Homo sapiens: one gene and its partners. The main gene of each other region encodes a partner of the protein of the gene in region 4 in a complex. Each region holds a gene or a part of one and is shown on either strand. Other genes may lie near its edges. The genes, in order: PIGP, PIGQ, DPM3 and DPM2.

Region 1 (5,235 bases), on a different chromosome or scaffold from region 4:
CAATGCCAGTCTTCTCTCTGTTCTTAGGACAAACCAAGTTCCTTCCCACCTTATGGTCTTTGCCTCACCTGCTTTATACTTAGATCCCAACAGCCTCTCTCTGAGAGGCCTTCCTTGACCACCCAATGTGAACTAGTCATCCCTTTGCATTCTAGAATACATTATCTTAATTCTTTGCATAGCACTCATCAAATTATATTTCCTTGTTTATTTGCTTAGTTGCCTCACCCTGCTTCTAAAACTATAAGCTCTTTGAGAGAGAATCTTACCATTACTTCATCCTCAGTGCCTAGAAAAATACCTGGTACACAGTGAGTACTCAACAAATATTTGTGTCTTAGACATGAATCTGATGGCACAAGTACTAACTGTACCCTTCCCAAAAACTAAGGGTTTGAATTCTGGGCCCCTCAGGACAAACAGGAGGAAGGACATCATTGCCCTTTGCAAATTACAATATAAATGCCTCTCTGGAGGAACTTCTTGATTATACTGACATTGATTTTTTTTTTTAAGTCTGCTATATGGGAATGCAATATTGTATTTATTCTATTCATTAACAATACTTGAACATTTACAATATTCATTGAACATAATCTAAGAGAAGGTCAACTTACATTTTTTACTTCTCTATTAATAAGAGAGATGGTCAAATTAATTTATGGTCAAAATTATAATGGCAAAAACTTATAAATAAATACGTGCTTGGTGTTACTATGGTTACACACAGTTCAGTTTTTGGTGTAAAGTTCTTTGGCTGCAAGAAAGAACATTTGGTTTACTTCACTAATAGAAATATCTCTTAAGGCTGGAATGGCCTCCTCTTGGTATTTCTTCTGCTGTTGATTTTTTGCATAGTTATCTGTAAGAAAAGACCAAAAAGCTCTGTTTACCTAAGCAATTTCTTCTACAGTCTCTGTGTCTGATGGAGACCCACCACATAGTTTACTAGGCTGACGTTTGGATAGTGACAAACATCATGTTTAACATAATTAGATGATTACTTAAATCCTCTCTTTAGAAGAAATGTCCCAATTAAAATAAAAACATCCCTGTCTCTACTAAAAACACAAACACACAAAATTAGCCTGGTGAGGTGGCGGGCGCCTGTAGTCCCACCTACTCGGGAGGCTGAGGCAGGAGAACAGCGTGAACCCAGGGGGCGGAGCCTGCAGTGAGCCGAGATTGCGCCATTGCACTCCAGCCTGGGTGACAGAGCGAGACTCCATCTCAAAAATAAAAAATAAAAAATAAATAAATAAATAAATAAAAATAAAAAAATAAAAACATCAGTAAAGTACTTTTTTCATCTCTAACTTGGAAAGAAATCAATATTTTAATCAACCATACAATGATGATTAAAGTCTCATTTGCACATTTCTCACGGGAACAGAATTATATCCAGGCCTTGAAAATGTATTTAAATCAACATGGCAAAACTATTAAATCATTTGGTATAAATATTCATGCAATCTTAACAATTTCCCCTCTTTGCACAAATTACCTATTTGCTGCCAATTCCAATCAAGAATGCATGGAATGCAGTGTATTAGAAAGACACTTAAAAATAATAGAATTGATTTTCAAAATACATTGTAGAGGCTAATATATAAAGGTTTTGAAAAGTTGAAAAATCATACCAGGGAACTTAAAAAATACTTTACTTTCTAGAATTTAAGCAAGCTCAGGAGTCTGATTTATTTTCATCTTTAGACTTGAAAGAACTTTAAAAAAATAAAACCAGACGAACGTGTTGTGGCTCTTTTATCCACTTAATTGGAATAAGGAGTACACAATGATCCTGAGGAGGATACACACCCCCAAAGTCCTTTTTCTGAACAAGGTCTGCATGTACTATTTACTATCCCTTGATCAACGGTGTCTGTTCAGGATAAGCTTCTCTCAGGCAAAGTTAATGGGAACATATTATAGACACATATAGCATATACTTGTGGTTTTTATGGGAACATACACCTGCTAACCAGTGCTATAATTAATTATAATTTATTTCCTCCATGAATATAGCTAGTGTGTATTCATCAGAACTTAATTCCTTCATGCAAATATTTCCTTTTATATAAGTTTGTATTTATTTCTCTTAGTAGCTTCTTTTTACTGTCCGTGTGTGTGTGTGTGTGTGTGTGTGTGTGTGTGTGTGTGTGTGTTTTCTTTTAGGATGGAGTTTCACTCTTGTCACCCAAGCTGGAGTACAGTGGTGGGATCTTGGCTCACTGCAACCTCTGCCTCCTGGGTTCAAGTGATTCTCCTGCCTCAGCCTCCCAAGTAGCTGGGATTACAGACGCGCACCACCAACATGGGTTTTGCAGCCTGTTCTTTGTTGCTTTTCTGGGTAAAAGTGCTAATACTCCACTCTTTCATTGCCCCAGCACTTTCCTTTTATATAAAGTTACCTGTGATTGTATGGATGGAGTCGAGTGGAGAGGTACTCATCATGTTAATCCCAAACAAGAGCACGTAGCCAATTACTATAGCAATAAGGAGGTAGACAGGTAATGCAACTGCCCAATATCTGCCAAAGAGAATATTAAAGTACATAATAGACACTTTAAAAAAGTTGTAATTCTCAAGAGTCGGTCACAAAGCCAACATGTTTTTTAAATTTAAATTTTATAAAGTAATATGTGTACATAAGAGACAAATAGTTCCACAAGGCTTACAGTGAAAAACTGCAGTCCTCTATCCCACCATCCCAACCCTGGGGTCTCACTCTCCAAAAAGAAATGCTTTGAGCACTTGAGCTGTCTTCTGGTACTTACCTCCTCATTGCTACAAAACATGCTCATATTACTATTTCCTCATTTTTTTCCATTACAGACATTTTCTCTAGGCTTCCTAATATGGAGATAAGGAATTAACCTCCTCCTATCCTCTTCTATACTTACATTGCAATTTCTCATTATAGCAGCAGGTTTTAGAAATAATTGTACCTACATAAACAATTTTGCAACTGAGGATCTTAGTACATTATTATTATATATTTTCTTGTACAACTTTTTTTTTTCTGGAATAATTACATCTTTTTGTCTGTTCACTTGGTTTCCCAGGAATCCACCAATACCAGAGCCTCAAATTCTCTGATAGGACTCTATTATGCCTCTCAGTATCATTATGTACATGGAGTGCTATTTTTCATTGAGTGTTTTTTTTTTCTTTTTGAGAAAGCATTTCCCTCTGTCACCCAGGCTGGAGTGCAACGGCATGATCACAGATCACTAGCCTCAATCTGCTGAGCTCACTTCAGCCCTGCAAGTAGCTGGGACTATAGGCACACACCACCACACCTGGCTAATTTTTAATTTTTTTGTAGAAATGGGGTCTTGAGATGTTGGCCAGATGTTTTTTTTTTTTTAAATGATTTGTTCTCTATTATTTTCTCTTTCTGGAACTTCTAATAGTTTGAATTTTTAACGATTATACTTTCTTATATTTTCATTTTTTTTTGTTCTAACTTCTAGAGATTACCTTTGTTTTATTTTCCAGTCTTTCAATTAAAATTTTAATTTTGGTTATCATGTTTACAATTTCCAAATACAGTAATTTCCTGTTTGCATAGCATTCTGTTCTTGTTTCATAGTTATAATTGTTTCTTACCTCTGAGAATTTTATGTTATTTAAATTTTTTTTTCTGTTTCCTGCATTATCTCTATTTCCTTCAAATTCCCTTTAATTTTCTGCTTTTTCATTTCATGCTAGAGGCTTTCTTTTAATGTCTGGTAACTTAGAGTAGTCCATTCATATTTAAAAATGAAGTGCTAACAAGTGAGTTGGAAGCACTATGTGTATGTGGGCAGGGATGGTCAACTGGTGAGCCTCACTCTGAGAGACTTGGCCACTTCACTGGGGTCCTCTAAATGTCAGAAATTATAGATCCTTTCTCTCGGGCTGGTCAGCTTCCTCAGGAAAGAACTATCTATCTTTTTCTGTGAGCAGTAGGGTGATATAAGCCTCGAAGCCCCAAGAGGGAAGATGGAGCAGGAGGTAAATCTTCTCATTAAGCCATGTAGATTTTCACTTACTTCCCTGTTTTCAGTAAGATGCCGCATTCCCACACTCAGACTTAGTGGCCCCCATGCTAGAGACTCTTACTTAACCTTGCCAGAGAGTAAAACTCCTGTTTTCTGCAGGGGAGGGCAGGGCAGGCCTCCCAGCTTTGAGGGCTGAGGGAGATTTGAAGGCTGAAGACTTCATATGGTCTTTAAACATGTTTTCAGTTCAACCCAGAATTAAAGAGCTACCTGGTACCCCAATGTCTGAGCTATTCTGGAGTTCTAAGGCACAAATATTCTTGCTGGCTTCCCTACTTCAGCAACGTGAAAATCACAGAAACAAAGGCAGTTACCTCTCACCTATCACAATCCACTTTCCAAAATGTGGTTGATATCTCTTTTCTGCTATACTATTGTTTCTGTGGTTTGTATCTTCAGTTTTTTTTTTTTTTCCTGTAGGGTCATTTTAACAAGATTTTTGGAGGAAATGGATGGAGATAAACATGTGTGTTCATGCTACCATCTTTAATTAGAGATGTATCAATAGCGATCTTTAAAAAGCTTTCAATTTCTATATGGCTATTCATGAATTTTAAGAGAACAAATATTTAAGATTTGGGTAGGTTTAAGAAATGATATGACTCCTCAAAACAGCATTAATTATATCCTCATTTAAGAAATATATTAAACTTACTTTTGAGGCCAATAGGTTAAACCTAAAGAGTTTAGCCAAGATTCAGGAATAAAGGCCCACACGAGGTAAAGTACTGTAGAAAAGAAAAAGAAAAAAAAGAGGAAGAGAAGTCAGTAAGACATACATCTAATCTATCAATCTATTAAGATTCAGATAAAACAGAAAAGCTCTTTTGAAGTGTCCCTGATTAACTCAGAAATGATTTTTTCCTCCTTTCAGTTCTTCTAGCTCGTTTGCACAATTCTTATAATACTTATAATTACTGTATTAGTCTTTTTTTTTAATATCTTAACTCACATTATATTTTAAGCAATTCAAGGATACAAATCATGGCTTAGCAATTGTTGTAATCCTTATTACCTAGCAGTTTGCTTTAGGTACAGTAAGTGTTCAATACTTCATCCCCACAAGGTTGAAGTAATTATAGACATTTAATTGCTCAAAGGGAAATTTACCTACCCTAGTTCTCATCCACCACATACTGAGCTTCTGCCCTATCTCCCAGAGTACAATGTTATTTCCCTCAATCCGAAA
Region 2 (7,586 bases), on a different chromosome or scaffold from region 4:
CCTTCCTCAGACACAGAAAGCCCCATCTCGCCTGCACGAAGAGTGGAGCGGCCACCCTGAGCAGAGACCCCCCACGCTGGAGCCACACTCGAGGGAGGGACATAGCTTGGCCTGAGCCTGGGTCTGGAGGTCCCAGCGCCCACCACGCCCTTAGGGACGAGGGAACAGAGCGGGACGCCTGGAGGTCGCAGTGCCCACCACATCCTTAGGGACGAGGGAACAGAGCGGGACGCCTGGAGGTCCCAGTGCCCACCACATCCTTAGGGACGAGGGAACAGAGCGGGACGCCTGGAGGTCCCAGTGCCCACCACGCCCTTAGGGACGAGGGAACAGAGTGGGATGCCTGGAGGTCTCAGAGCCCACCACGCCCTTAGGGATGAGGGAACAGACCAGGATGCCTGGAGGTCTCAGAGCCCACCACATCCTTAGGGACGAGGGAACAGAGCAGGATGCACACGTCGGGGTGGTGTGACCTGTAAGTCCTCTCCCGAAGCTTGGAGGGGCTCTGGAAGAGGCCTCACACGGAAATGCCTGGGGCTTAAGAGGCCCCTGGTGCAGCTGCTCTCCTCCCCTGCAGGCAGCCCGCACTGGGGCTGGAGGATCCAGTCACTCAAGGCGGTGGGTTCTAGCTGAAAAGGGACCTTCTGGGTCAGGCTGCAGAACTCCTCAAATGCCCATTTCCTCAGTGGTCAGAGAGGGCAGGCGGCGGGTGGATGCCTGGAGGCCAGCTGACGTGAGGCACCAAGGACATCGTGAGAGGGACAAAGTGATTCTGCCTGCAAGGGGCCCAGCGTGTCTGGCTGTGTGACCACCATAGGGGACCACCCAGTACAGCCCACCTTTCACACCAGCTCAGCCCAGGGACCCATCACGCCCTGCTGGGGAAGAGCTTTCACAGGGACTAAGGAAAACTGCCCACAGATATCGTCGGAAAAGAAACACAATGGGTCTAACAGTAAACAGATGTTCTAGGGGGAGCTGGTTCTGCGGTGGGCTCACTTTGGGTAAATTCACCGAGCTACGTGCTCACGATCTGTGCGCTTTCTTTGTGTGTATTCTTTGTGCTTCATCTACAAAGTTTACCTTAAAAAAAAAAAGTGCCTTGTGTCTACCGAAGGAGATGGGAGGGCAGAAGCTACTCTTCTCTGTCGAGTAGTGAGAGAAAACTCAACGTACTGTGGGGCAAACGCCCATCACACTCCCACCTCAGCCTCTGGGACGGTCGGCGGCACAAAGAAGCCTGCACTAGCAGCTGCTGGGATCACACAGCCAGAGGAAGATGAAAGAGAAGCGATCGATAGCAGAGGAGGTATGGGACGGGAGAAAGCAACGTGAGCATCTTTAAAGACTGAGGAAACACACACACACACACACACACACGGGCGCCAGGCTAGCCACACACACACACACACACACACACGGGCACCAGGCTAGCCAGACACACACACACACAGGCGCCAGGCTAGCCAGACACACACACACACACACACACACACACACACAGGCTAACCAGACACACACAGGCTAGCCAGACACAAACACACACACACACACACAGGCTAACCAGACACACACAGGCTAGCCAGACACACACACACGGGCACCAGGCTAGCCACGGGTCCCAGGCTAGCCAGACACACACACACACACGGGCACCAGGCTAGCCATGGTTGCCAGGCTAGCCAGACACACACACACACACGGGCGCCAGGCTAGCCACACACACACACACAGGCTAGCCAGACACACACACACACACACAGGCTAACCAGACACACACAGGCTAGCCAGACACACACACACACACACACGGGCGCCAGGCTAGCCACGGGTGCCAGGCTAGCCAGACACACACACACACACACGGGCACCAGGCTAGCCAGACACACACACACACACACACACACACACACACACACACACACACACACACACACACACACACACACACACGGGCGCCAGGCTAGCCAGAAGAGCTTCCTCTGCTAAGAATGAGCCCGAGTGCTCTTGAGAAGCCATTCCCAGACCAGGCAGGTAGGGAGGTCGACCATATAAAGTAGTAAGACTAAGACTTCCCTCTCCTCCCCGTGAATGAGGGAATGGGGGCACCCCAGCCCAGTTAGGACGGGCCAGGGCCATCTCTGGCTGAGCCGCCCCTCCCTGCCACCGCTCCACAAGAGCTCTGGAGAATTTGCGTTTCCCAGCGCCTTGTTTGAAAAATAAACACCAACCTGGCGCGGTGGCTCACGCCTGTAATCCCAGCACTTTGGGAGGCCGAGGCGGGCGGATCACTTGAGGTCAGGAGCTTAAGACCAGCCTCGATGGGGGTGAAACCAAGTCTCTACTAAAAATACAGAAATTAGCCGGGCGTGGTGGTGGGCACCTGTAATCCCAGCTACTGGGGAGGCTGAGGCAGGAGAATCGCTGGAACCCGGGAGGCAGCGGTTGCAGTGACCCGAGATCGCGCCATTGCACTCCAGCCTGGGCGACAGAGCGAGACTCCCTCTCAAAATAAATAAATAATGAAAAACAAACACGAGTTCAGCCTGGGCAACATGGTGAGACCCCGTCTCAAAACAAACAAACAAACAAACTTGCTTGCCTTCCTCAAGCAGGGCCTTCCCCTCTCATTTGGGAAGAGCCTACGATTCCGTTTTTTGCCCTTTCCTGCAAACCGGGACAACTGCGAAGGGCCCACAGCCAGGCCCGGGCCGCCGACCGCCCTTGCACAGGGTCCACAGGGGCCCAGGTCGGCGCGGGCCCGGGGGCGGCCCCACTTCTGGGAGGAGAAAGCAGCGGCGCCGCGGGCGGGAGTGCGGAGCCCCCAGCCCAGGCCCGGAGCCGCAGGGGCGCTGCCCGAGGTCCCGCCGCGCGCCGCCCACCCCCCCTGCTCACCGGGTGCTTCCGGGGCCGCGCGCTCGGGCGGCGGGGTCCGGATGGGGTTGGGGACCCCGATGGGCGGGCCCGGGCAGACGACGGCGCTCGCTGCCTCCAGCCCCGCCGCGGGACCCGAGCCCCACTTCCGCCGGCTCCGCGCGTTGCCGCGCGACGGTCCGGCCCCCAAAGGCGCCCGGGCTGCCCGCCCGCCCGCCCGACCCGAGCGTTCCGCGGCGCAGCGTGCCCGCCCAGTCCCCAGGCCCGGACCTCCCGAGCCTGCCTCCGGGCCGCCAGCCCCGCGTCAGCTCGGTTTCCTCACCTGAGAAACTGACTGGACCTGGCCTTCGTGGAACCCGGACCCCGCCTGGCTCCCAGCCTCCCCAAGTGAACAGGTCCCCAGGCCCTGCGGGATTCCAGGAAGGCCCCAGCCCCAGCCCGGTCCCGCCCCCGTCACTCTGTTGTCTGCAGAGGGGCCGCCCCCAGATCCCCAAGGCCAGTGGTGCCGGGAATTTTGAGCCCTGGTAGGACCAGCCCAGAGGCTGCCGCCAGCGATCGTCAGGAGAGAACACACAGGCGTCCAGCCCCTCCCGATCCCAGGAACAAGACCCCAGCCCAGACCTCAGCGGCAACTCCGTTTATTGAGCACCTAACTACATTGCGCAGTTAGTCCCCCACCCACAGGACCCAGACATATGAGGGACCTCTCAGGGGGGATGTCCTGTGATACAGGGGAGCCCCACCTCCCCACCCCACAGGGGTAGAGCCAGACACCGTCCCCTCCCAGCTCCCTCCCCCATACAGGCCCTTCCCTGGACCCCAGACCCACGGAGTAACCCAGACGCCTCTCCTTTCACGCCTCATTTCCCCACTTGTAAAATGGGAGGAGAGGGTTAGACCCCTATTTTTTCTCAGTTTTCCAAAGCAGCAGGAGTCTCTCCTTGTAGGAAGCTCCCCCAGACCCTCCCAGCACGGCTGCACTGGGAGGACAAACAGCATGGAGCTGTTTGTCCCTGTCTGCAGAATGAAGGCCCAGACAGCTTTCATTCATGGGGACGCGGAAGAAAAGGCATCCAGGGTTCAGCCAGCCATGGGCCTCCAGACACTCCAGGGTTGCCTCCCCCTTACCTCTGCCAGGCCCAGAGAAGCTACTGGAGGCTCAGGACTCTAGGTCCCTCTGAGGTTGGGGACATTTAGGGGCCACACCCCTGCCCCAGGCCGCCCCGCCCAGCCCAGCCCAGCCACACCCTCCCTGCCTGTCTGCCCCCGATTAGGAGGCCTGGGCAGGGGCACCTGGTGGGAGAGTCTGCCTAGCTGTGTGCCGGCAGCTGGCCCAGGATCTCAAGGCTTCAGCTGCCAGCCCCAAAGTCCAGGCACAGGGCCTGAGGGGGTGTGGGGGGCATGAATGCAGGGGCCAGGGCACTGAATGGGGACAGCAGAGAGCAGCCCTGGCTGGGGAGGCTGCAGGCCTGGCAGGGGCAGCCTGGGAAGCAGACTCAGGGCTGCTCCTGAGATCCGGAGCCTCACCAGCAGGAGAACTCGAGCCAAGCCCAGGGCCCAGCCCAGGTGGTGCTGGCATCAGGCAGGCAATGCCCATAGCCTGGAGGCTCCACCCATCCTGAGGGTTCCTCCCGCGGTGATCCAAGGGCCTGGGAGCTGGCCTCAGGCACAGGAGGGCTGCTCCAACCCAGCCTCAGGTCAGGCCAGCTCCTTGAGGCCCTGGTACACCTTGATGGAGTTGTCCTTGGCATCAGCCACCAGGAGCTGGCCCTGGGGTGCACAGGCCACTCCCAAGGGCTGCCCAAGCCCCTCTGACACCAGGCAGATGGGTGGCCCAGCCCGGGGAAACAGGGTCACCTGGCGCCTCTGCTCGTCTGCCACAATAACATTGCCCTCTGAGTTGGAGCAGATGCCCGCTGGGCAGCCGAAAGTGTGCCCCGTCCAGCCCCCCAGGGAGCCCAGGGGTTGGCGGGCACTGCCAAACAGCCTCACATCCCCAAACTCCTCACTCACAGCAAGGCCCCCATCAGGCCCTGGGCCCACCCAGCAGGGGCCCTCCAGACCCAGCATGGAGGCTGGGGCCAGGGGCTCCCAAGCAGGACCCAACGAGAAGCTGTGCACAGCCCCAGGCAAGTAGTCCGTCACCAGGAGGCGGTTGAGGGCATCCACAGCCAGCCCTCGGGGAGACAGGAAGGTGCCCACTGTCACCCAGTGGCCCCCGGGGTCCCGGGCTGTGTGCTGGAGTGCATGGACAGCCCCATGGATGGGATCGCTGACCACCACAAGCCCTGACGCTGTCACAGCCACGTCCTCTGGAACGAAGGCCCCGCTCCCCGGAGTGCGGCAGGGCAGGAGGCAGATGGGGCGTCCCTCCAGATCTAGCACGTGGACACAGGGTGCAGCCCCGGCCGTGAGGAAGAGCAGGCCATCGGGGGAGCAGTGCAGGCCCCGGGGCCCTCCCACAGCCCCTGCGGGCACCCGGATCCACCCAAGCAGCCGGAGCTGCCGGGAGCCCGTGGAGTCTCCAGGTGGGTCCAGTGTGAGGTGCAGACACCTGGAGGCCAGAGTCCAGTCAGTCCGAATCACCGTCTCAGCTTCTCTGCAGCTGGGTCACGCTTGGGGCTGCAAGAGAGAGAATAAGGCCCCACTGTGTGTGGGAATGGCAAAGTCACTCCTCCAGTTTCTTCCTATGAGGCCGGGTCCTCCTGGTCCTGAGGGTCTACCTGGCCACCAAGCCCAGCGGCCACCCTAGTGTCTAGGTGCCTGGGACTTGAGTCTGGGAGACACATGACCCGTGGAGCTCGCTGTGGGTTTTCCCCTGAGCCCCAGATGAGCTCATGGGCCTCAGACAGATAAGCAACATTTCTCAAATCCATCTGCCTGTGGAACCCCTTTCTACGGCGGGGGGGCGGTCACCCACACACAGCCCTTCTACCCGAGCCCCTAGGTCAGGGAGACTTCTGACCCCTTAGGGGCGAGGCAGCCTATTCCGAGGGCCTCCACCTGCCCCACCGAGAGAGGCCGGGGGGAGGGGTCTCTTACCTGGGCCCTGTCTCGCTGGGCCCTGCTTCGGGGCTGGGTGGCTGCAGCCTCTGTTGTTGGAAACTAGAACTGGAGGAAGTGGGAGGAGCCACTGGCAGGGACGCAGCTGGGCCGGGTGGAGGAGGGAGAGTGCAGTCTCCGGCCTTGGCCCCTGAAGCTTCTATGAAAGAAAAACCAGGTCCCCTGAGGACTCCCCATGCTGTGGTGTTCCTGCCTCCGCGCCTTGTTGCAGGCTGCGCCCTCTGCCCGGACACTATTCCCACGTCCCCTACACGGCCAGATGCCATGCAGCCCACCCCCCTCCAGGGGTCCCCCATGGTCCCCCCACAACCAGCAAGTTCATTACTCCAAGTGGCAAGGCAGCCCCAGGCTGCCACCCCCAAGCAGGGTCCTTGGGTCTGGACCACAGGCGGGTGACCTGCTGGCTGAGGCACCCTCCATGAGGCCTGTCCTGCTCCCCACGGGTGACAGCGAAGGAGGTCGTGTCTCCACACCTGGGAGACGGGTGCTGTTGCCCCCAGCAAGGCCATGCTCACCTGTCTGCTCAGTGGGGGTGAGAAACTGAGGTGCAGTGGACATATGGGGTGCAGTGGACATATGGGGGGCGGGGGCTGAGGACAGGGAGTCTCCCTCAGACTCGGGACTTGGGAACAGTTCCTGGCTGCCCAGAGCCCCCTGCAGCCCCTCCAGGAAGCCTCTGGGTAGAGGGGCCCGGCTGGGACCTGTCCCCACAGCACTCCGCGCCTGGCCAGGCAGCACCCCAGCTCTAGCTGCCCCGAGGCAGGGTCGGGGCTGATGCTATCTCCCTGGTAGTTAATGGGGCCGCTGCCAGCCTGCTTGGACTGGCCCCAGCCCGGCTGGACGCAGGCAGGAACTGCTTCTCCTCCTGGGGGGGCGATGTGGGCTCCAGAGCCCATTCCAGGGTGGGCGTGGAGGGTGTGGCCAGCTCTCCCAGGAGAGAAGTGATTTGCTGTGGGGGTCCCGGGTGCCCCTCCCTGTCTGCCCATCCCCTGCCCGTGGGAGGGCCAAGCCAGGCCCTGCTGGGAGGGAGGCAGTGAGCTGTGAAGGCTGATACCTATCACGGCTGCAGGGGCTGGCAGGGGCCAGCAGAGCCCACGCTGGGTGAGCAGCCTCCAGCCACAGAGCCCCGGGGCCACCGTTTAACCGCAGGAGAGCTGATATGAGCGCGGCCTTGCTGGATTCAGAGGCTAGAGGATGTTCAGGGGTCCGTGCCCACCCCCGACACACCAAGACACAGGCCGAGCAGCCCAGTCCACACGCCTCTCCACCCCCGACACACCAAGACACAGGCCGAGCAGCCCAGTCCACACGGCTCTCCTGGCTCAGCTCCCGTCGCCGATGTCCCGCCCCACCCCCAGACCCCAGCCCCGCGGGGAGGGCCCAGCCCACAGGAGAGGGCCGAGTCTGAAGACAGAGGCCCAGCAGGACTGCTGCCCACCCAGGCCTCCCAGGCCAGGACACTTCCTTAGGGGGGTGTCCAGGTGGCTACACTAGGGCCCCAAAGGAAGGAGGCACAGACGGCGTGTGTGAACAGTTTCTGTTTTAATGTCCACAATTGTGATCAATAAATAACTGTGACCTCCAGTGTCCCTGTGTGGCCCCAGGGACAAGCGTTGGCCACGGCCCGTGGGGGTCTATCCACATGCATG
Region 3 (5,710 bases), on a different chromosome or scaffold from region 4:
GCGGTGACTCACACCTGTAATCCCAGCACTTTGGGAGGCCGAGGCGGGCGGATTACGAGGTCAGGAGATCAGACCATCCTGGCCAACACGGTGAAACCCCGACTCTACTAAAAATACAAAAAATTAGCCAGGCGTGGTGGCAGGCGCCTGTAGTCCCAGCTACTCAGGAGGCTGAGGCAGGAGAATGGCGTGAACCCGGGAGGCGGAGCTTGCAGTGAGCCGAGATCACGCCACTGCACTCCAGCCTGGACGACAGAGCAAGGCTCCGTCTCAAAAAAAAAAAAAAAGAAGTACTTCCTACAGGGTTGAAAGGACCAGGAAAGTGAAATGTCATTTCCATCCTGAGAAATATTGAGAAGGGGTCTTTGCCTCCTTGGGAGCAAAAATGGGAACACCAGCAAGATGCAAAGATAAAGGCTGAGATGGCCTCAAGAAGGTGGTTCTTTCACATTCACTTCTCGACCGTTAGTACATAGAATCCCCAATACCCGTTTTCCATACTCAAACTAAACGAAGTTAGAAAATAAACTGGCTCTTTAATGGGAAATGGGAGGAAGGGCTGTCCGCACAGGAATGGGGTTAGGCTGTCAGAAGCGCAGCCCCCTGCGGGCTAAGTCGGCTCGGGCCTCCTGTATCTGGCTCTGCAGCTCGCGTGCGGCGTCCTCGCAGTCATGAAAAGTGGCCACACGATAGCCCACAGTGCCCAGGGCATAGCAGCCGGCGGACACCAGCAAGTAGGCGGGCAGTGGCCACAGGACTTCCTGGCAGGACAAGGGCAGCTCCAGGCCCAAGGCTCCCGTGGTCAGGGCCACCCAGGTGGAGCCCAGGATCGCTAGTCCCCAAAGCCACTGCGCTAATTTCGTCATGGTCACTGCGAGAGAAGGAAGCAATGCTCCCCTGAGGAGCAGAAAGGAAAAGCGGACCAAACTCAACCGAAGCCCGCCCACGGAGAGCATTAAAACCAGCCCTGGCCAGAGGGGAATCGCCGATCCCAGAGGTCCGAACTTGAGTGCCCACAAAAGGTGGAAGGGCCCCTTCCACCTTGCTACCCCCTCTATATTTGAGACCCACTCCCCATCTCTCGCCCTCCCCATTCAGCCTTCAACCTACACTTACCTCTACCCCACGTCTCCCCTTCCCCGCGCGGCCCGGATGTTGGCGTCCGGAAGTCCTCCCTGGTTCACGTTCCGCTTCCGCGCGGCCTTCTGGGAGTTGTAGTTCACATGGCGGCGCCTGGTGTACTCCTGGCCAGCGCCTCAATCTAGGCGGGGGTACAGTGGGCTGTGCTCCGCAAACGGGGAGCAGGCCGGGTCTGGAGAGGCCTCGGCGCTGCTTTCCCACCTTGGGCTACGCTCCAGGCTGGCGTGGGGCTTGAGGACATCCTTAAATGTTGCAACAAGATGGGAATATAATACCATTCCCCTTAAACTCAATTCTCCAGCGCTGAAATCCATTCCTTCATTCACTAGTTCATTCATTCGAAGATTTCTTTCTTTCCATTCTTGACAGGGTCTCTCTATAGTGCCTAGGCGGGACAGAACTCCTTTTTTTTTTTTTTTTTTTTTTTTTTTTTTTTGAGACAAAGTCTCGCTCTGTTGCCCATGCTGGAGTACAGTGGCTCGATCTCAGCTCACTGCAACCTCTGTCTCCCGAGCAGCTGGGATTACAGGCGCGCGCCACCACGCCGGGCTAATTTTTTTATTTTTAGCAGAGAACGGGGATTTCACTATGTTGGCCAGGCTGGTCTCAAACTCCTGACCTCAAGTGACTGGCCCACCTCAGCCTTCCAAAGTGCTAGGATTACAGGCATGAGCCACAGCGCCCGGCCAGAACATTTCTTGATTACCATGATAGACTTTGGAGATACAGAGATGTCAAGAGACTCGACCCCTTTCAGGTGGAGGGGGAAAGCAGGAGTCAGTGAAGCAGTTGCATTGACAACTAACCATGAAGGCTTGAGATTATTGTTAGAACAGAGGTAGTCATATTTTTACAAGGACAACAACCAATATAACTTGGAGCCAGAGGAAGAAGGGCTCCAGGAGTCTGGGTTTCAAAAAAAAAGAAAAGAAAAGAAAGACCAGAAGAATTACCTGAAGTGGTGAAGGCATTGAAAGAAAGAGTATAATTCTTTAGAACAGTTTTGGGGATGAATTTATTATGTATAGAGAGAAAGAGAGAGAGAGAACAAAGTAAGAGAAAAGGTTAGGCAATTATCAACTTCAGAGGAAACAAAGAGTTATATAAGAAAGGAAAGACAATTGATAAGCCTGTCTTATAAAGACCACATCTGTAGTTTGACAGTTAGGTTTATTAACTTGCCACAACAGAGAGATCACACACTAGAAGAACTGTGGGGCAACTCATTAAAAAGGAAGAAATATGGTCATTCAGATGATATGGTTTGGCTGTGTCCCCACCCAAATTTCAAGTTGATGTGTATCTCCCAGAATTCCCACGTGCGAGGGACCTAAGGGGAGGTAATTGAATCACGGGGGCCAGACTTTCCCGTGCTATTTTCATGATAGTGAATAAGTCTCACAAGATCTGATGAGTTCATCAGGGGTTTCTGCTTTTGCTTCTTCCTCATTTTTCTCTTGCCACCGCCATGTAAGAAGTGCCTTTGTCTCCCGCCATGATTCTGAGGCCTCCCCAGCAATGTGGAACTGTAAGTCCAATTAAACCTCTTTTTGTTTGCAGTTTCGGGTATGTCTTTATCAGTAATGTGAAAATGAACTAATACAACAGGATATGGGAAAGGCTTGACTTTAAAATTTATATTTTAAAATTTATTTACTTATTTATTTAGAGTTGAAGTCTCGGTATGTTGCCCAGGCGAAGCTCAAACTTCTGGGCTCAAGTGATCCTCCTGCCTCAGCCTCCCAAGTGGCTGATACTATAGGCTAGCTAAAATTTAAATGAAACAGTGTTTTGATCGGTTCGAGGTAAGCATAACTTTAAGTGAAGGGATCAAGAAGTCCAAGCTGAGGGACCACTTGGAAATTACAAAGTCAAGATAAATATAGAATATAGTGTCCAAAAACCCACTATCTAGGCTGGGCACAGTGGCTCGTGCCTGTAATCCCAACACTTTGGGAGGCCAAAGTAATCCACGTGGCTCAGAACTTCTGGCAAGAGTAGGATGTTCCATTCGCACTGACTGATTTCAAATAGCAAAGTTTGTGACTATGATTTTAGAAAATGAAGTTTCTCAGCCGTATGTCCTGGATGTTAATTAACAAAAGCAGTTTTTACAGATTCACAGTCTTAGCACAAACACAAATGGCTCAGCTGTGAAGAAAATTTTCACAGCCGTAACGATGTAAACACTAAGTATTGATTTAACTAAAAATTGGAGCTGGGGACAGTGGAGCTGTGATCCCAGAACTTTGGGAGGCCTAGGTGGGAGTGTTGCTTGAAGAAATGTACAGATAAGTACCAGAAGAAGCAGCCTAGAAACTGGAGCGTAGTTGTATATGTAGGTTGTATATGTAAGGGTTAAAGAAGAGGAGCAGGGGATGGTTATTTTTCATTAAAAGCCTTGTAGAGTTACAGCTCTTTTTTTTTCTATTCTTTTTCTTTTTTTCAGACAAGGTCTTGCTCTGTTGCCCAGGGTGGAGAGCAGCGGTGCAAACATGGCTTACTGCAGCCTCGACCTCCTGGACTCAAGCTATCCTCCCACCTCAGACTCTGGAGTAGCAGGGACTACAGAAGTGGGCCACCACCACCACGCCCATCTAGTGTGTGTGTGTGTGTGTGTGTGTGTGTGTGTGTGTGTGTGTGTGTAGACGGGGTCTCCCTATGTTGCCCAGGCTGGTCTCAAAATCCTGGGCTCAAGCAATTCATCTCAGCCCCCACAAAGTGCTGCTATTGCAGTCGTAAGCCACGGCGCCCACCGAAGTTACAGCTTTCAGAATTTGTTGAGCAGGTTTCCCGGTTTTCACTTGAAAATGCCCCGCCACCCCGAAAAATATTTGTTGAACTAGTTGGCTTTTAAAACTATACAAATTCCTTTGTTAAAGTAAAAATTAAAACAAATAAAAACTTTTCTTTTTTTTTTTGAGACAGAGTCTCGTTCTGTGGCCCAGGCTAGAGTACAGTGGCATGATCTCAGCTCACTGCAACCTCTGCCTCCCATGTTCAAGCGATTAGCCTGCCTCAACATCCCAAGTAGCTGGGACTACAGGCACGCACCACCACACCCAGCAAATCTTTGTATTTTTATTAAAGACAGGGTTTCACCATGTTGGTCAGGCTGGTCTCGAACTCCTGAGCTTGTGATCCTCCCACCTCGGACTCCCAAAGTGCTGGGATTACAGGCGTGAGCCACCGCGCTCAGCCCAAACTTTTTTTTTTTTTTTTTTTGAGCCGGAGTTTTGCTCTTGTCGCCGAGGTTGGGGTGAAATGACACGGTCTTGGCTCACTGCAACCTCCGCCTCCCGGGTTCAAGCAATTCTCCTGCCTCAGCCTCCCGAGTAGCTGGGATTACAGGCACCTGCCACCATGCCTGGCTAATTTTTGTATTTTTAGTAGAGTTGGGGTTTCACCTTGTTGGCCGGGCTGGTCTCAAACTCCAGACCTCAGGTGATTCGCCCCCTCGGCCTCCCAAAGTGCTGGGATTACAGGCGTGAGCCACCGCTCCTAGCGAAAAACATTTTTTAGGCTGGGTGCGGTGGCTCACGCCTGTAATCCCAGCACTTTGGGAGGTGGAGACGGGTGGATCACGAGGTCAGGAGATCGAGATCATCCTGGCTAACACGGTGAAACCCCGTCTCCACTAAAAATACAAAAAAAAAAAAAAAATTAGCCGGGCGTGGTGGCGGGTGCCTGTAGTCCCAGCTACTTGGGAGGCTGAGGCAGGAGAATGGCATGAACCCGGGAGGCGGAGGTTGCAGTGAGCCGAGACTGTGCCACTGCACTCCAGCCTGGGTGACAGAGCGAGACTCTGTCTCAAAAAAAAAAAAATGTTTTTAAACCTGCTATACGACCTTCAAAGCCCTAGCCACATTTCCATTTCCACACCAAATCTTTCTGGTTTCTCAATCAAGGACTCACTGGTCACAATGACTTTCAAATATTGGTATACTTACAGGGGCTGGACACGAGCATTGCAGATGCAGATCCAGAAAGTCCATTTTATTCATACACAGTAGACTTGGCCCTGAAACTCCCCAGAACATTTTAGGGGCTTACACCACCACATATAAGGATAGATAATAAATTATAAAGTATTTCTGTTTTTTGGGTTTTGTTTTTTTTTTTGAGACAGAGCCTTGCTCTGTCGCCCAGGCTGGAGTGCAGTGGTACAATCTCAGCTCGCTGCAACCTCTGCCTCCCGGGTTCAAGCGATTCTCCTGCCTCAGTTTCCCGAGTAGCTGGGATTATAGGCACCTGCCACCATGCTCAGCTAATTTTTGTATTTTTAATAGAGATGGGGTTTCACCACTCTGGCCAGGCTGGTCTCAAACTCCTGACCTCAGGCAATTCGCCCGCCTCGGCCTCCCAAAGTGCTGGGATTACAGGCGTGAGCCACCGCACCCAGCCGAATGAAGTAGGTACTTTTCTATTCCCATGTATGAATGAGGAAACCATGACACAGAGAGGGCAAAAGGTAAGTAACTAGCTCAAGGTTGTGCAGATAGTAAACAGCAAAGCTGTTTCATTGGACCCAAAACTATATTCTTAGCACTTTCATTCTACTGTGTTGCTG
Region 4 (7,837 bases):
TAAATCCAACCCGGCCAAGCTGGCACAGGGGAGGCATGGCAGAGGGGTGCCAGGGCCTCCAATGACTCCCAGCTGTGAGCTCCATTGGGTAGGAAGCACATCTGTCCCAGTCCCTGCTTTATCCCCAGCGCACAGGGTCAGGGCAGAAGGCCCCCGAGTCACCCCTACTGTACAGGATCTCCTGACCCAAGACCGCTCCCAGCCCGCTCCAGCCCCGACCCTGGGTAAACACGGCACAGAGACAAACACACCATCAGTGTTTATTGGTCAGCTGTCCCAAACGGGCCAGCCCTGGGGCTTTGGGGCTGGGCCTCCGTGAGGAGAGGTCAGTCGGTCAGCGGCCCGGGGTGGCTGCCCTGAGCCCCAGGGCTGGTCCTGGGGTCTGTCAGTCCTTCCCCAGGCTTTCCAGGTCCAGAAGGCTTTGTGGGGTCTGGGGCTGTGTCAGGGTAAGGAAAGCTGCCTTGGTGGAGGAAGAGAAGTCAGAGAGGTCACACATGTGGCCTTAGAACCTGCTAAGTCCAACGTCAGCATGTGACAGGAGGGGAAGTGAGGCAAGACGGCAGAACCCAGGGGAAAAGGTGGCAGGGAGTCTGAGAGTGAGGTTGGGAGGACCAGCATCTTTTAGGCCCTGAGCAAGAAGGAGGTGACCGGAGTCTTCCAGGTATCCCTCCCTCCTAGCTTCTGGAAGTGGGAGTCGGGGAGGGGGCTCCAGTCAGTCAGGTGTAAGCTCCATGCCATGGGGACTCTGCAGGACAGGCAGGCTTGAGGAGCCACTGTGCCTGGACAGGTTCTGCAGGCTCCCCCACTTGGTCCCTGTGCTGGAGGGGAAGCAGAGAAGGGGCTGGCAGCCTCATCCCTGCGGGACCTTCACTGAGCCTTCTTGGTCACTCTCTTGGTCTTCAGCATCACATAGGAGATGAACAGTCCTGGGATACACAGACCAGAAAGGCCACATAAGATCTAAGCTCAGGGCTGCTGGGAGGCCAGGGCATGACACAGCAGAGCCACCCACACACAGGGCTGTGAACCTACCCAACCATCCTCCAGGGAACCTGCTTATCTCCCTAGTCATTCGTCAAGGCATATGTCTACTCACATTCACTCAACAAACACCAACTGAGTGCCTGCCTCAAGCAAGATGCTGCATTTAGTGTTTCAGATTCCAAGGGGAACAAGATCCACCCATCTATCGATCACCCGGTCAACCACTTGTCTGTCCACCTACATACCTACCCACCTCCTCCTACACCTCACCCACCCACCCATCCATCCACCCATCATCCAGGCACCCGGCTGTTGACTGACTCATCCAAATGACTTTCTGAGCACAGCCTCAGTGCCACAGCCTGTTCTAGATGTGCAGTAATGATGGAGACACAGTCCCCATCCCTAGGAAGCCATGAGAGAGAGAGGTGCAGGAATTAGAAGCCAGGGTGACAAGAGGGTGACTGAGGTGTGAGCAGAGTGATGATGGGGTTGGGGCAGGAAAGAGGTAGACAGGTCATTGGAGTCCAAAAAGCCTGGGGCACCAGGAAACCCAGAGGTTACTGACTGGCAGCCTCGAAGGATGAACAGGAAAACCCCACGGGTGAGTTCGGGGCAAGCAGCTTCCAGCACCGCCAAAGTGTGGAAGCATGTTCAGAGGTGGGGTCTTCCCGAAACCCTGCCCAGGGTCAAGGGGAGGAGGTGATGACTTACCCACAAACAGGAGCAGCAGGAGGCCTGCAGCCAGTGGGATGGCGACAGCATAGGCTCGGGGCAGGAAATACTTGTGGATGACATGCTGACTGTCGATGAATGGCTGGCATCGAGGGAAGAGCTCTGGTGTGTCTTGCTTGCCTTGCCGAGCCCCCAAGCCCAAACGTCCCACCTCCTCCATCTAAGGGGCTGACCCATTCAGAGGACTGGGACTGCATTTGCTTTTCTTTAAGATTACGGCATTTGGGTGTCGTGGTTTGTTTCTTTCCTTAATTTCTTATTGGTATTTACCGGGCACTTGCTTTGGTGCCTGCTATAGGTTGGTGGTGGGGACAAGAGAACAGGGCACAAGAGACCTGCCCTAAGGCACCTCACAGCCTAGCAAATGGTACTTGAGGAATCCTCGACTGACTCCCAACCTGGGCCTCCAGGGCTTCTTCACTAATATTTTTTCTCTAAAGGATACCAAGTTCTGCACTTCCAGACACACTGCACTTCTTAAGCAATAACCAACAAGTTTTCCCACAAGAAAAAAATATCCTAAAGGCCTTCACAAATATCACTGGCGTTTGCCATGCCTAAGAGTCAGCAGGCTAACCCAGAAGGAACAGAACTCCCCCAAAAGTCAAAGCAAGCCGGAAACAGAGTTATAAGTGTAGCGGCTAAGGATGCAATCTTGGGCCAGATCCTTCTCCCCTAGCCTCAGCTATCTCATCTATAAAATGCGGTACCACTGGCATCTTCCTCATAGAGTTGTTCTGGAGAGTTCAAGAGATGAGGCAGGCAATGAAGCCAGCGCCGTGCCTAGAGCCTATATAGTAGTTGCTCTGGCGGTGCCAGGGCTCGGGGAAGGTGAGCAGCGGACGGGGAGAATGACATACCAAGAGAATCACCCAGGCGGTGTAGTAGGTGAAGATGATCAGGCTAACGGCGACGAGGCCGAGTCCCACCACCTGGTCTGTCCCCGTGGCCTGGAGAAAAGGGAGGTCTCAGCTGACGAAGTGACCCTCTATTTCGGCGCACTAATGGAAGCGGGGCGTCGCGGCCCGATCACGGTCTAAGCTTCCCATTCAACAGATGGTAGAGGGCTGACTAGGGATCAGTTTCTAGGCTGGGAGAGAATGCTAGGCCTCCGCGTTGTCGTCCGTACAATAGTGGGGGCGGGAGAGCAATCCCCGTTCCAAGTGCCCATGCCCCAGCTCCTGAGCAGACCCGGGACCCCACCCCCAGACGCCCCTATCTCCGGCACACGGTGCCAATCTCACCATTTCCCCGCGCGCTCAGCCACCCGAGCCGCAAGCCACATCCGGTTCCGGGTCCACGCTCTTCCGGCTTTGGACTGCGGAGCACGCCGGGAGTCGTAGTCCCCAGGCCTGCTCGGGCCCACCTCGTCGGAGACGAGCAGGAACCGCCTCCTCTTCTTTGCATATCGGCGAAGTGTAGTTCTCAAGAGCATTGTGGGGCCGGTTGCTGCCCGAATCTCTCTAGGGAATGGGACCGAGTTGGGGACCCAGACTCCCTGGCCTTCATGGCCACAGTCCTGTCGCCGCCCCACCAAAAGCCAATCTCTAAGTATCCCAGAGTCCCGGGGCCAGAGTGGGATGGGAGTGCGGGATCGGAAGTTCCATTTTTCAGATGGGAAAAGTGAGGCTCAGAGAAAGGTAGATCCCATTCCGAGTCAGTGGTGAAGCCGACACGGAAACCGGGTGCCCTACTTAGTCTGTAGGTGGGAGAGGTGCAGAGAACGTTCACTTTCCAGCCTAGGGTGGGCGGGGGAGGGTCTGTCCCTAGCCCGCATGGATGGGGAGGATTTGGTGGAGAGGAGGCGCCCTCCTCACCATCGCCCGGCCTCCCGGGCCACCCTTCGGATGTCCCCTCCCTTCCTTCACCGACTGTCTCTCGCAGCAGCCCAGACACGTTTCGGACCGGGACCCACGCACAGGCCCCTCCCCGGTCTTGGAAGGCCCTTCCTCTGAGAACAAAGAGATGTTGGGCCAGATCATCTTCCACGCTTCTTCAGCTCCGAGATAGGAACGCGGTCCCCCACCACTCACAGGCCGGCTGCTCCTCACCCATCCGGTCTCACTGGGACGCCACGTTCCTCAGGGAAGCCAGTCGGGAACGTTTTTTTTGTTTGTTTGTTTGTTTTTGAGACGGAGTTCTATGTTATCCAGGCTGGTGTCGAACTCCTGGGCTCAAGCGATCCTCCCAACTCGGCCTCCAAAAGTTTACAGGCGTGAGCCACGGTGCCCAGCCTCCTGTGCCTTTTAATTCACTGATGCAATTGTTGATCCAGCCCTGTCAGCCCCGAGGGTAGGGTCTGAGGTTGCTGCTGTATCCCTGGCACTCAGTGGAGGCTTGGCCCAAAGAAAGAGGTTTTTTTGTTTTTTTTTTTTTTTCCCAAGACGGGAGTCTCACTCTGTCACCCAGGCTGGAGTGCAGTGGCATGATCTCAGCTCACTGCAACCTCTGCCTCCTGGGTTCAAGCGATTCTTCTGCCTCAGCCTACCGAGTAGCTGGGATTACAGGCACGTGTCAACACGCCCAGCTAATTTTTGTATTTTTAGTAGAGATGGGTTTTCACCATGTTGGCTAGGTTGGTCTCAAACTCCTGACCTCAGGTGATCCACCCACCTCAGCCTCCGAAAGTGCCTGGATTACAGGCGTAAGCCACTGCGCTCGGCCCAAAGTAAGAGCTTTGAACCTGTCAGCTTTAAGATTGAGTGATTGTTTAGATACTGGAGTACAGCATCTGGACTCCAGGCCTCCCTGAGGGGTTATGTGGAGGCCTTTGGCCTGCTGTCCCCACCTGGGGAGTTTGGGGAGAGATGTGCTTTGAGCCTGGCATGGTTCGCTCCCTCTGGCATTTATCTCCTTGGTTGGTTGGAAGCCCATCTCCAACTATGGAGTCTGCCCTCCCAAAGCTGACAAGAGCAACTTTTTTTTTTTTTTTTTTTTTTGAGACGGAGTCTCGCTCTGTCACTCAGGCTGGAGTGCAATGGCGCGATTTTGGCTCATTGCAACCTCCACCTCCTGGGTTCAAGCGATTCTCCTACCTCAGCCTCCTGAGTAGCTGCGATTACAGGCACTCACCACCACGCCCAGCTAATTTTTCTATTTTTAGTAGAGATAGGGTTTCTCCATGTTGGTCAGGGTGACTTCAGGTGATCTGCCTCCTGCCTCAGCCTCCCAAAGTGCTGGGATTATAGGCGTGAGCCACTGTGCCCGGCCAAGAGCAACTTTTTTAAACCTACAGTCCAATTCTTTTCCCTTATCTCTCAGGAGACTTTGGGCTCACCTAGGAGCCCACTTTTACCTCCTTCCTCAGTTGTGCATATAACAGAGGAAGGGGCAGAATCGGCCTTCAGGGTTTAAAGGGGCCATGAGTCGGGGTCAGCCCTGAGGAGGAGTGGGGTGAATGCTATCCCAGGATAGAGATGGAGCCCTGGTGGCCTGATTCCTCCTGGCCTGGCCAGTACCACTGAAGCTTCCCAACACCTCCAAGCTTATTAAAGAACCAGAGTGACTTGCCTGTCCCAGAGAGACTTGGGATGGTCAGAAACGGGGGTGAGGGGCCCGGGGCAAGCCAAGCCTGTAAATGATGGCAGCCTGGGGCTTTAGTTTGGGAACACACTCACACCTCCTACAGGTCAGGCTGCACACTCGTGTTATTTGATAACCCCATCTGCAGGTGAGGAAACTGAGGCGCAGTTATTTGTCCTCAGGCATGCTCCTTAGAGGCCACTTGATTGCAGAGAAGGTCTACAGAGCAGTGGTTAGAACTTGGCCCTGAGGACAGAGCTTTTGCTCCGTATGAGGCTGGCAGGTAACGATCTTCTCAGTTTTCTCCCCAGGAATCTGGAACGATGAAGGTGATGATTGTGCCTGTGGCCAAGACCGGGAGAACCCTGGATCCCTACACCTTCCCCACCCCTGGAATGTCACTATACATATCTGACTTCTTCTGATGTTGCCTTTGACCCTAAAGTCAATATGATAAAGTAACAAGGTAAAAACAAAACAGCAAAAGAAACAAAAACCGAAACATTTAATTTTTTCTCCCCAAACCAAGACGCTGACACTAGCCTGAGTTCCCCTAACAATGTTATTTTCTACAACAGAAGCTGGGACAGAGGAACAAACACAGCCCACTCAAGCAGTGGTGGCAACATTCTGTTAGAAAGGAGGGGAGTCAAAGAAAAAAACACCCCTCCGCCCATCTCCTTATCACCTCCCTAAAGACAGAGGAGAACATGGACACCCTCCATCCTGATAGACATGCCATGTGGTCAGTTTGTGCGGTAAACAGGAAAAAAAAAAAACCTAAAGATATTGTAGACCTTTATTTTCTTTAAATCTCCTAATAAAAACATTAAACTTTCAAGAAGATTCCAAACTGACATTGCATAGACCAACTCCTTTCCAAAAATATCTCTGATATACTCTCCAACTCTCTCAATATATAGAATTTGAAGTCCAGGAGCTGTGGGCACCTGGTGGGAATTCACTGAGCTCAAGGGGACAAGAGGGCTGAGGACAGGGCTCCCACATGGGGACAAGGCCAGGCTTTCTGGCCTCTGGTTCCAGCCAGCATCAATTTGGTTGTGGCCAAATTCTCAGTCCAATCACCCTGGCCCAGGGCCTGGCGTGGGAGGATGTGGCAGGCTCTGTCTCCTTCTGGGGTTCCTGGTCTGGAGGAGTCTCCCCAACAGCGCCAAAGCTGGCTGTTTTCCACCCAAAGCCCCAGAACTTTGAATGAGAGGCAAATCTACCCTGAATGCACCTCCCTCCTAGGCTGGGTGAGGTCACGCAGACACAGAAGGGCAGGACAGAACTCCCCATCTTCTGGGGGCCAATTCGTCTGGACACTGTGCGGTCAGCTTCCTTTTTAAAGTGCCAGTATCGGTGGGGCAGGAAGGGACTCTCAGGGCTGAGCAGAGCCTTCTCCAGCGCGAGCGAACACTCTGTCCCGCCTCGGCAGGCACCTTCTAACATTCATTTTCTAAGGGTTAGGTGAGTAAAACAACAACAAATGCTGGAAATGCTCTGTTCCCAATGCCAGGGAGTTCCAAGACCAAGAAGCCCAACTCTCACCAGCGGGGGCAGATGGGGAGCTAGGGAAGGAACCCTCCCAGCCTGGGGAGGGCACCTGCACCCCTCCCAGAGAGAGAAGCCCCCATCCCGGCCCCCCAGCTGGGCCCCAGCGCTGCTGGAACCAGCCGGCAGGTGGGGCAGAAAAGCAGCACCTCCCCTCACCAGGGCGAGGAGGCAATATTGAACCGTGAACTCAAGAAGAAAGACGGAAAGAAAAAATGAAAAAAGCTACAGGGCTAAGTAAACACCAGCCTGCTGGGTTTATACAAAATGAGTGAAATTTAAAAGGGGCAGGAGAGTTTGTCCAGGGACTGGCTGGCAGCCAGAACCCACCTTCAAGCAAGTTACAAGGACTTGGGGGAAAGTGCTGAGAGCAGAGGCTTTAGTAGGGGGCAGGGCCAGACTGCTCCCCACTGGGAAAGCACACCCCTTAAAGGAGCCCTTCCCCCTTGCCCAGAACGGGGGATGCTTCCAGAGGAAGGCTGAGGCTTTTCTGGTAAGGAAGCCAGCTCCGGACCAGTCCAGCCACAGCCCACCTGCCTCTCTGGCATCCGCCCCAGTCTGGGCAGCTGACCCTGAGGGCAGAGAAGGACTTTGCTTGCTCCAACCTTCCTGCAGGAAAACCAGCTGCTCAGGACCCAGCCCTGGGCAGAGGGCACGGTCGGTGCTCAGACCTTTCTCAGCACGGGTCTCAGACCTGAGCTGGAGCTAACTGGAGGAAGAGGCAGCACCCGTTCCCGCCGGGCTGCTGGACCCTGGGCCTCTGACTGCACAGCAGGCAGTGACCAGGAGTCCTTGGGAAGGAGCTCAGGGAAGGGGAGGTGAGGGGCCAGTGGGACTGTGCTGGGGGTGAGCATGTGCAAAGTGCAGGCTGCAAGGCAGCGGGAGGACATTTGCCGGGGGGAGGCAGGGGTCTCGATCTGGAGTGTGGGTGGGGTCTGAGGTCATGGCTCCCAGGAAGAGGCCGCCAGCAGGTCCCCCAGGACACAAGGAAGGGACAGCTGAAGCACTAAGCAGTCAGACAGTCACAGGTGGCAGGATTCCG

What was found.
Region 1: DPM2 (region 4) and PIGP share a complex: the UniProt entries of both Homo sapiens proteins name them as parts of the glycosylphosphatidylinositol-N-acetylglucosaminyltransferase (GPI-GnT) complex.
Region 2: DPM2 (region 4) and PIGQ share a complex: the UniProt entries of both Homo sapiens proteins name them as parts of the glycosylphosphatidylinositol-N-acetylglucosaminyltransferase (GPI-GnT) complex.
Region 3: DPM2 (region 4) and DPM3 share a complex: the UniProt entries of both Homo sapiens proteins name them as parts of the dolichol-phosphate mannose (DPM) synthase complex.

What each region holds. Positions count from the first base shown.
Region 1 is NC_000021.9:37,064,851-37,070,085, forward strand, and holds the end of PIGP (phosphatidylinositol N-acetylglucosaminyltransferase subunit P), read right to left. Parts: intron 4,775-5,235; coding exon 4,702-4,774; intron 2,531-4,701; coding exon 2,412-2,530; intron 863-2,411; coding exon 732-862; 3' UTR 524-731; downstream 1-523. UniProt on the Homo sapiens protein: Part of the glycosylphosphatidylinositol-N-acetylglucosaminyltransferase (GPI-GnT) complex that catalyzes the transfer of N-acetylglucosamine from UDP-N-acetylglucosamine to phosphatidylinositol and participates in the first step of GPI biosynthesis.
Region 2 is NC_000016.10:565,406-572,991, reverse strand, and holds the start of PIGQ (phosphatidylinositol N-acetylglucosaminyltransferase subunit Q), read right to left. Parts: upstream 3,025-7,586; 5' UTR 2,896-3,024; intron 1-2,895. Other genes in the region: NHLRC4 (NHL-repeat-containing protein 4), read right to left, coding at 4,573-4,944. UniProt on the Homo sapiens protein: Part of the glycosylphosphatidylinositol-N-acetylglucosaminyltransferase (GPI-GnT) complex that catalyzes the transfer of N-acetylglucosamine from UDP-N-acetylglucosamine to phosphatidylinositol and participates in the first step of GPI biosynthesis.
Region 3 is NC_000001.11:155,139,375-155,145,084, forward strand, and holds DPM3 (dolichol-phosphate mannosyltransferase subunit 3), read right to left. Parts: upstream 1,158-5,710; 5' UTR 1,117-1,157; intron 1,034-1,116; exon of another isoform or gene 957-1,033; coding exon of another isoform or gene 867-956; coding exon 588-866; 3' UTR 517-587; downstream 1-516. UniProt on the Homo sapiens protein: Stabilizer subunit of the dolichol-phosphate mannose (DPM) synthase complex; tethers catalytic subunit DPM1 to the endoplasmic reticulum.
Region 4 is NC_000009.12:127,934,855-127,942,691, forward strand, and holds DPM2 (dolichol phosphate-mannose biosynthesis regulatory protein), read right to left. Parts: upstream 3,001-7,837; 5' UTR 2,967-3,000; coding exon 2,964-2,966; intron 2,670-2,963; coding exon 2,580-2,669; intron 2,457-2,579; coding exon of another isoform or gene 2,361-2,456; exon of another isoform or gene 1,963-2,360; intron 1,925-1,962; exon of another isoform or gene 1,802-1,924; coding exon 1,699-1,801; intron 927-1,698; coding exon 868-926; 3' UTR 245-867; downstream 1-244. UniProt on the Homo sapiens protein: Regulates the biosynthesis of dolichol phosphate-mannose. Regulatory subunit of the dolichol-phosphate mannose (DPM) synthase complex; essential for the ER localization and stable expression of DPM1.